Regions from separate parts of the Homo sapiens genome. Here all the other regions are linked to region 1. The links come from fine-mapping of genetic effects on gene expression. A gene starts in region 1. Each other region holds a variant in brackets. All regions are shown on one strand. Distances are between the middles of the regions.

Region 1 (2,835 bases):
TGTCTCATCTGTTGAAAAAAATCCACTTCTAGAGCAGGATGCTGGAGTTTGAGAGACTCAGCAAGGCCCAGAACCCTCAGCAGGTGTGTGGCTACCATTCCTCCATGGCCCATGGCTGCCTCCCTAAGGAGGCACATGGGAACCCTAGGTGGTGTCAACTTCCCTCCACAAATCTCAAAAGCCTTTTTGGACTCACCCTGGGGCAAAAGGCATGAAAAACAGTATTTGACTGGGCGTGGTGGCTCACACCTGTGATCCCAGCACTTTGGGAGGCTGAGGTGGGCAGATCACCTGAGGTCAGGAGTTTGAGACCAGCCTAACACGGAGAAACCCCGTCTCTACTAAAAATACAAAATTAGCCGGGCGTGGTGGTGGGCGCCTGTAATTCCAGCCATTTGGGAGGCTCAGGCAGGAAAATCGCTTGAGGTGGAGGTTGTGCCATCGCACTCCCGCCTGGGAAACGAGCAAAACTCCGTCTCAAAAAAAAAAAAAAAAAATCACGGGCAGAAATGGAGAAGGCAATCCCAAGAGATGAAAAGTCACTGGTAACGAGCTTCCGTTTTCATGTCTGTACCCTTTTCCAAGATTGCCTGTGGATCAGCCAGACCTCTGGGGTGCCAGAATAGGAAAATAAAGACACTTGAGAGAAAACCGAATCAACTCACTACCTTTCTTTATTGCTAAGCACTTCAATAGACACAGCGCCCACCTTACCGCTAGGCCCTCCGGATTGAGGTTTACTTAGGTTCAAAACTTGCAGCCGGCTCGCGACGAAACCTGAAAGTCAGCGCCAAAATACAGACATTAAGTCCCCACTCCTTCGTTTCGGGCAACACCTGTTTCCACTCTCAGCTCCCCGTCAGGAGTGCGCACCCTCAAGCCTCAGTCTTGCTAAATAATCAGACTGCACGTGCAGTTTTCATACGAGGTGTCAGAAGTCAAAGCAATTCATCACAGACTGGGAGAATAAGGGAACCCAAGCCCGGCCCAGTCTTACCTGCAGGTAGCTGAGGGCCTGAGATTCGGGAAGAAACCTTTAAACGCTAAGGGACAAAGTGGTGCGTAGGCCAGGCCTGGACGCCCAGGGACCTGGCCGGCCTGCAGCGTTCGGACGGCCCTCAAAGCCACGCTCGTGGCTCAGTTCGTCCCAAGATCGTAGCACATGGCGAACGTATTAACAAACCTCTTCCCCCTCGGACTCGACCCCGAAAAGACAGGGGCGGGCGAGGCTCAAGCTTTTATAGAAACTGTCCCACCTCTGTCATTGGGCTATCCTGGCGGAAGTGCCCGCCTTCCCCCGCCGCTGGTACGCTCCGCTCCCTGCCGCGTTGTTTCCACCAATCGTACCGTGGCATTTCTTTTGGAGACGGTCTCTCAGACCCAGACCCGAAGCTCCTCCCTTATGCAGAGTCCGTGAAGCCTAACGGTGAGTGACGGATGAACAAAGCCAATCAGACTTCGATCTGCAACATAGAGTGATTCTGAAGCTGCCATTCCCGCCCCGCGACGACGAGGCCGCCGGAAGTCGTAGTTTCGGAAGTGCGGCGCGTGAGGCAGCCGTCCGGGCCCGGAGAGGCGGGGAACTACACGTCCCGGCGGGCGCAGCGGCCTGGCGCTTCCGGCTCGCGCGTCTAGTCCCTTTCCCGGCCGGCGGCCGAGGGGGCATCATGAAGCGGGCTGGCGGCGCTGCCGCTCCCGGGCGGCCGCGGGCGGGTGAGTGTCCCCGCGGCGCGCCCGACCCGGGGCTCGCGCCTCGGGACCGCGCGGTGGGGCGGGATCGGGCGCGTGGAGATCGAGGCGAGGCGAGGCGAGGCGAGGGGTCGGGCCGGGGCGGGGAGGGGGGGGCGGGGCTGAGACGGTCGGGGTCGGGGTCAGGGTCGGGGTCCGCGTCGCTGTCCGTCCGCCAGTCAGTAGTCCGTCCCTCGCTCCGTCCTGTTCTCGCGCAGTTCTTTACTCATTCCTTCTTCCTGCATTCCCCGAGACTCCCGGGTGCCAGGCACTGTTCTGGGCGCCGGGAGACCGCGGAGAACACGGTCCCAGTTCTCCTGTGCTCGGCGTCTGCTGCAGGGTTCCCCAACCTCCGCACCATCGACCACGCGGCCCGGGTCGCTTTTTGCTGCGAGGAGCTGCCCTGTACATTGTAGGATGTGGAACAGCTTGCCTGGCTCCTGGCCGCTAGATACCAGTAAACACCACCCCTTCCTCAATTGCGATAACAAATGTCTCCATGCATTGGCAAATGCCTCCTGCGGAACAACTCCCCCCATCCCCCATCTAGACAGACAGGGTGGTGGGATTGACAATAGGTAGTTAAAATCATGGGGAGCAGCGGTATGTGCTGTGAAAGAAAGAAAGAGGGTGCTGAAAAAGTGAGTACTGGCCGGGGGTAGGGGCGGCGCTACCGTTAGCCAAAGGCCTGTTGGAGAAGCAGCCAGTCCCAGGACATGCAGGAGGAGCATTCCAAGTAGAAAGAGCCAGATGTACATAGGCCTGGGGTGAGAAGGGGCCTGACGCACCCCAGCAAGCACTGGCAAGTGGAGAGGTGAAGTCGATGAGGCCGGACCAGGCTCACAGGGTGCATGGTGGGGTGGGGCGGGGGGGTTATTATGCTGGCAAATGACTTGGGGTTGAGGAAGCGCTGGAGAGGCGGTCCGATCTAGGTCCAGTAAAGAGCTTTCTAACTGTGTGTGGACCACAGACTTCAGAGTTCACTGGGGAAGCAGGAGAGAGGGAGGCTAGGCCATCGTCTCCTAGTCCCCACTGGGGTCCTGCTGTCAAGATACGGTTGTCTTGAGCCAGGCCAGAGTGGTCAGCTGGGGTTGAGTCTGGAGTCCA
Region 2 (2,835 bases), 39 kb after region 1:
GGGTGTGCGGCCTGTGCTTGGCTCAGAAGGACCCCATGCCTGCGGATGCTCTCCTGTCGCCATCTCGAAATTCTTTTTCTTTTTTTTTATTGGAGATGGAGTTTCATTCTTGTTGCCCAGGCTGGAGTGCAATGGTGCGATCTCGGCTCACCACAACCTCCACCTCCCGGGTTCAAGCAATTCTTCTGCTTCAGCCTCCAGAGTAGCTGGGATTACAGGCACGCACCACCACTCCTGGCTAATTTTGTATTTTTAGTAGAGACGGGGTTTCTCCATGTTGGTCAGGCTGGTCTCGAACTCCCGACCTCAGGTGATCCGCCTGCCTCAGCCTCCCAAAGTGCTGGGATGACAGGCATGAGCCACCATGCCCGGCCTGAAATTCTTATTTTTGAGCAAGGGGCCCTGCGTTTACATTTTGCATGGGGACCTGGGAATTATGTCGTGGGGCCTACCACCATCCCTTGCCATTAGCTAAAGGGAGCGCAGGTGTCACTGTCCCGTGCATCCCCGCCAGGACCACACTCAGGAGGTTCTCCCCACAGAACGCTGACCCCCACTCTTCCCAGCTCCAGGGTGGACAGCCCTCAGCATGTCCCCAGGACTGTCCAAGCCAGGCCCTGTCCTCCCTCCCACAGCTGAGGCAGCCAGTGTGGAAACCACCTTCTCACCCAGCCACACCTTCAGGGGCTGAAATCTCGGAGAGGCTGGAGGTCAAAGCCCAGAAAGTAACATCTGCCAGTGGGGGAGGGTGTCTCCCTCAGGAAGGGGACCACCCCCATGTGAGGAGGGGTGCCTTACTAAAGCCATCTCGTCCCTCTCCCCACTTATGGTCTCCTCAAGGGGGAAACTGGCTGAAATTGGATGGCAGCAACTTGAGGTCTTGGGACACACTAACCCCCATTCCTGTGGGGGGACAGTGGGTACCCAGGAAGGTCCCAGAACTGAGAAGGGCCTGGGGCTGGGGGCTGTTTTCACCTGGAAACGGGTTCTCTGGATGAAGCAGGAGCAGAGCATGGCTGGAGGGGGCCGGGGCCAGGATGAAAGTCCAGGAGCCCCCCTCCCTCTCCACGAGGTCCCTAAGCCCTGTGACTCTATGACAGTAAAGGCCTTACCCCCGACCAGCCCTCTCACTGCTATCCTGAGCCTGTCCCCACCTCTGGGGTCCAGTCCATATCCCAGGCTAGAAGGGAGCTACTAGTGGGCTATTAGAAGGTGAGAGGGGGATGGGGAGCTGGCCCTCGGTGCTCAGGG[G/A]TGTCCTCCACGGCATTCTTGGGCCTGCCTCCATGGACAGGGGGCCTCCATGGATAGGGTCCGGGTCAGAGGGAAGAGTGGGTCCCTCCTGGCCAGCAGGAGGCCAGCCCCTGCACCGGCATCTCCCCCAGAACAGGCTCCTCTTCCCCTCAAGGACAGCTGCTAAGTGTGTGCGTGCGGGCACGGGAGGCTCCCTTCAGGGCAGGGCGAGTCGGGGGCTGGCTGAGCCTGGGGTGACTCTGGAGCAGGGGCTGGAGGGAAGGGACTGGGCAACCAGAGGGGACCATGGAAGCAAAGCTCATGGGGACAGCCCTGGGCTCACGGGGCCCTGGAGGATACTGCTGGACACCCCCCACCTCGTGGCCCAAACTCAGCTGTACTTTACTGAATCAAAATACATCTTACTCCAAAGCAGGCCAGCGTTGCCATGACGACGGAGCTAATTCATGGAGGGATTTCTCCTCTGATTTATTACACCCGCCCCTGTGAGTCAGAGAGCAGGAGCCGGGGCCAGGGCAGGTGTCTCTCCTGTCCCAGAGGCCAGGCAAGACAGGCAGAGACCCAGGTGAGAGTGGAAGCCCCCACACCTCCCCAGAATGGCCACAATAGAAGGGAGGAGGAACCTCCCCAGAGCTGAAGCCCCCACTTCCCCAGCCCCTGGCCCTGGGCCGTCCAAGACTGCGGTCATTGCTGGCATTTACTGAGCACTTACTGAATGCCTGGGCTGCAAGTGCCCAGGCTCACTGGTCTTAGGACCCCACCGTGAGGCTGACATCCCATCCTACAGACGAGGAGACTGAGGTCCACTGAGCTGGAGTTGTCTGTGTCCAAGGTCATGCGGCCACTAGGTGGAAACCTTTACCTTGCCTTCCCTCAATCCCTACACCTGCTCTCCAGGCTCAGCTGAGGCTGCCTCTGCCCACAAGCTCTCCCTTTCTGAGCCCCCGGACCTGAAATCAGCTCGGGGCCAGCCTGCAAGGCACCGGTGCCCCCTCTCTCTTACTGCACAGAGTGGACAGGAGCTAGCCAGTCATGGGCTGCTGGTGAAGTACGGGGGAGGGGGTCCTCCTGGGACTCCTAGGTGCCCCCAACAATCTCCCAGAAGCCAGTCCCAGTTCTCGGCATCCCCCTGGAGGAAGGGGAGGGGGACTCTCTGGCTTACAGTCTGTGGGGGTGGAGGGAGGAGGGAGGACGCCCAGACCCCACGTGCCGACCTGCAGAGCCCTGTCCGTGCCCGCACAGGTGCCCTGACACACTGACACGGCTATACGTGCGCAGCCGCACACGCGGCTGGTCCACACGCCCATCCATCCATCTCCGGCGGCCCCCAGGGAGGCTACGCGCTGAGCCAGGATGAGTGCTGGGACCAGGGCTCCAAGCTCCCAGCCCTTTCCTGGGGCCGGCCATAGGGCAAGCTGGGGATGGCCAGTGGTGGTCCCCCACTCCCTCATGGCCTCCTTTCCCAGCAGGGAAGCTGGAGACCCGGCTCTGCTGGAGCCTGCCTGAGCAGGGCCCCAAGCCCTTGCGCCCAGGCCGGCCCTGCCTGGAGTCCAGCCTGCCCTGGGCTGGGCGACCTTGGGCCTC
Region 3 (2,500 bases), 75 kb before region 1:
GTGGGAACCGGGACCCGGTCGTTACTAGGCCTGGACTCGGGGGAGCTGCAGTCCGGCCCGGAGTCGAGGTGACTGCACCTTCCTTTCCTCCGCGCCTGCCAGCCTCGACACCGGCTGTCCCGAGCCCAGGCCCACGTGGCACCCTCGTACCAGCCTGGGGACTAAGTCCACCCTGTGCGTGGGATTCTCTTCTCAGCTCCAGCCCCGGGGTGCATGTGAGACAGACCAAGGAGGCGCCGGCCAAGCTGGAGTCCCAGGCTGGGCAGCAGGTGTCCCGTGGGGCCCGGGATCGGGTCCGTTCCATGTCGGGTGAGCCTTGGCCCCAGCCACCTCCACACAGGCACCGGGGCTCCCTCAGTTGCTGCTGGTCCCAGTGTTCAGGAAGGCCCCGAGCCCAGGGGCCGGGGTGGCTGGCTTCAGGCCCGGCCCACGTCCTGACTCTGGGGTGAGCCTTCCACAGCTCACCCCAGAGCCGTGGAGTGGTGGAGTGTGGCCCGCTTGCTGCAGAGGGGCCTGCTCTGGGTGCTGGTGTTTCCTGCGGGTTTTCAGCTCGGCTCAGTCCTGGAGCCCTTCTCTGCTCCAGCGAGCCGTGGTCTGACTGCAGGACAGGTTCTGGGTCCCTCCCTGTGGCCCTGGGTTCACTGAGGCCAGCACTGTGGTGGGCCGTGCCCCAAGGGCAGAGCTGCCACCGTCTCTGGCTGCCTGTGGCACTAGCTTGCCAGGCTCGGGGGGAGCATTCAGCTTGAGGCTGGTGGTTTTGCATCAGGTAAGTGGTGGTCACCAGTCCTCTGCCCTCTTCTTCAGGGGGCCATGGTCTTCGAGTTGGCGCCCTGGACGTGCCGGCCTCCCAGTTCCTGGGCAGTGCCACTTCTCCAGGACCACGGACTGCACCAGCCGCGAAACCTGAGAAGGCCTCAGCTGGCACCCGGGTTCCTGTGCAGGAGAAGACGAACCTGGCGGCCTATGTGCCCCTGCTGACCCAGGGCTGGGCGGAGATCCTGGTCCGGAGGCCCACAGGTACTGGGCGGGGCTGGCCTGAGCGCCATCTTTCTGCCAGTCACCCACAGAGCTGTGGACACTCAGGGGCGATTGCAGACTTGGCCCTCTTGGGATATTTGGGGGTAACTTTTGTTTTTTTTTTGAGACAGAGTCTTGCTCTGTGGCCCACGCTGGAACGCAGTGGCGCAATCTCGGCTCACTGCAAGCTCCACCTCCCGGGTTCACGCCATTCTCCTGCCTCAGCCTCCCGAGTAGCTGGGACCACAGGCGCCCGCCACCACGCCTGGCCAATTTTTTTGTATTTCTAGTAGAGATGGGGTTTCACTGTGTTAGCCAGGATGGTCTCAATCT[C/T]CTGACCTCGTGATCCGCCCGCCTTGGCCTCCCAAAGTGCTGGGATTACAGGCGTGAGCCACCGCGCCCAGCCATTTGGGGGTAACTTGTAAGTCTCCAGAGGTGAGCTGTGAGGGGCGATCCAGGTGGCTGAGGTGGGGCAGGGGCCTGTGGCGAACCAAGTGACTTCCATGGCAGAGAGTTGCCCTCCCCGCCTGGAGGCTGCAAGTCCGAGACCAAGGTGCTCCTCGGCAGGAGGTGCTCCTCAGAGGCCTCAATCCTTGGCATGCAGTTGGTTTTTTCCCTGTGTCCTCACAGGCTCTTTCCTGGATGTCTGCGTGTTAATCTCCTCTTGGGAGGAAACCGGTCATGGCTTAGGGTCCGCTCTGGTCCCTTGCTAGCCGTAATTAGCTTTCTGAAACCCAGTCTCCAGAGACAGTCCCGTTCTGAGTTCCTGGGGTTGGGACTAAAGCATACCAACATGGGGGCACAGCTCAGCCTGTTCCCAGGGGCAGAGGGAGCCCCCGCAGAGGCCCAGAGCCCAGGGACAGAGGGAGGCCTTTGCAGAGGCCCAGAGCCCAGGGGCGCCTGGGTGTGCCGTGGCTGAGGGGTGCAAAGAGTAGGGGTTCCAGCCCTCGTGGAGGCCTTGGGTCCGGACTGTGAGGCTGTGGGCTGGAGGCCGCTGCTCTGAGGTGCCTGGCGGAGCCTGGCCTCGAGGCAGGGGCTGAGCGGGGCAGCAGGGTGGGTGGCCGTCAGAGCAGCGCTGGCTCCGACATCGTGGTCCTGAGGATTGTGGGAGGGAGCATGAGGGCAAAACCAGGGCCCAGGCCAGGAGGCCCCTGGGGGGCCAGAGATGGGTAAGGGGAGGTACTGGCCTCAGGCCAAAGGTGCTGCCGCCTCCGCAGGGAACACCAGCTGGCTGATGAGCCTGGAGAACCCGCTCAGCCCTTTCTCCTCGGACATCAACAACATGCCCCTGCAGGAGCTGTCTAACGCCCTCATGGCGGCTGAGCGCTTCAAGGAGCACCGGGACACAGCCCTGTACAAGTCACTGTCGGTGCCGGCAGCCAGCACGGCCAAACCCCCTCCTCTGCCTCGCTCCAACACAGGTGAGTGGCATGGCGGGCCTTGGCACGGGCTCTGCTCCCACTGGCCTGGTGCTCCCGGTGAC

Evidence for each region.
Region 2: its variant is fine-mapped to the expression of TRAF7 in whole blood (TOPMed, PIP 0.99).
Region 3: its variant is fine-mapped to the expression of TRAF7 in whole blood (TOPMed, PIP above 0.99).

What each region holds. Positions count from the first base shown.
Region 1 is chr16:2,154,146-2,156,980 of GRCh38, forward strand. TRAF7 (TNF receptor associated factor 7) reads left to right here and starts at 1,637. Exons shown (of 21, transcript NM_032271.3): 1 at 1,637-1,713. It overlaps SNHG19 (small nucleolar RNA host gene 19), which reads right to left and starts at 1,213. Exons shown (of 2, transcript NR_132114.1): 1 at 998-1,213; 2 at 637-777. SNORD60 (small nucleolar RNA, C/D box 60) reads right to left here and starts at 960; the gene lies at 878-960. RAB26 (RAB26, member RAS oncogene family) reads left to right here. Exons shown (of 9, transcript NM_014353.5): 9 at 1-20. RefSeq lists enhancers at 1,002-1,201, 2,072-2,171, 2,182-2,321, 2,245-2,826, 2,827-2,835 and a silencer at 1,682-1,771.
Region 2 is chr16:2,192,943-2,195,777 of GRCh38, forward strand. All of the region lies in intron 1 of CASKIN1 (CASK interacting protein 1), which reads right to left. Among named protein-coding and RNA genes, the nearest start is that of CASKIN1, 2.2 kb to the right of the region's middle. The variant G/A (reference allele first, on the strand shown) is at 1,252.
Region 3 is chr16:2,079,361-2,081,860 of GRCh38, forward strand. It overlaps TSC2 (TSC complex subunit 2), which reads left to right. Exons shown (of 42, transcript NM_000548.5): 28 at 1-68; 29 at 197-309; 30 at 805-1,017; 31 at 2,235-2,438. Among named protein-coding and RNA genes, the nearest start is that of MIR1225, 9.7 kb to the right of the region's middle. The variant C/T (reference allele first, on the strand shown) is at 1,351.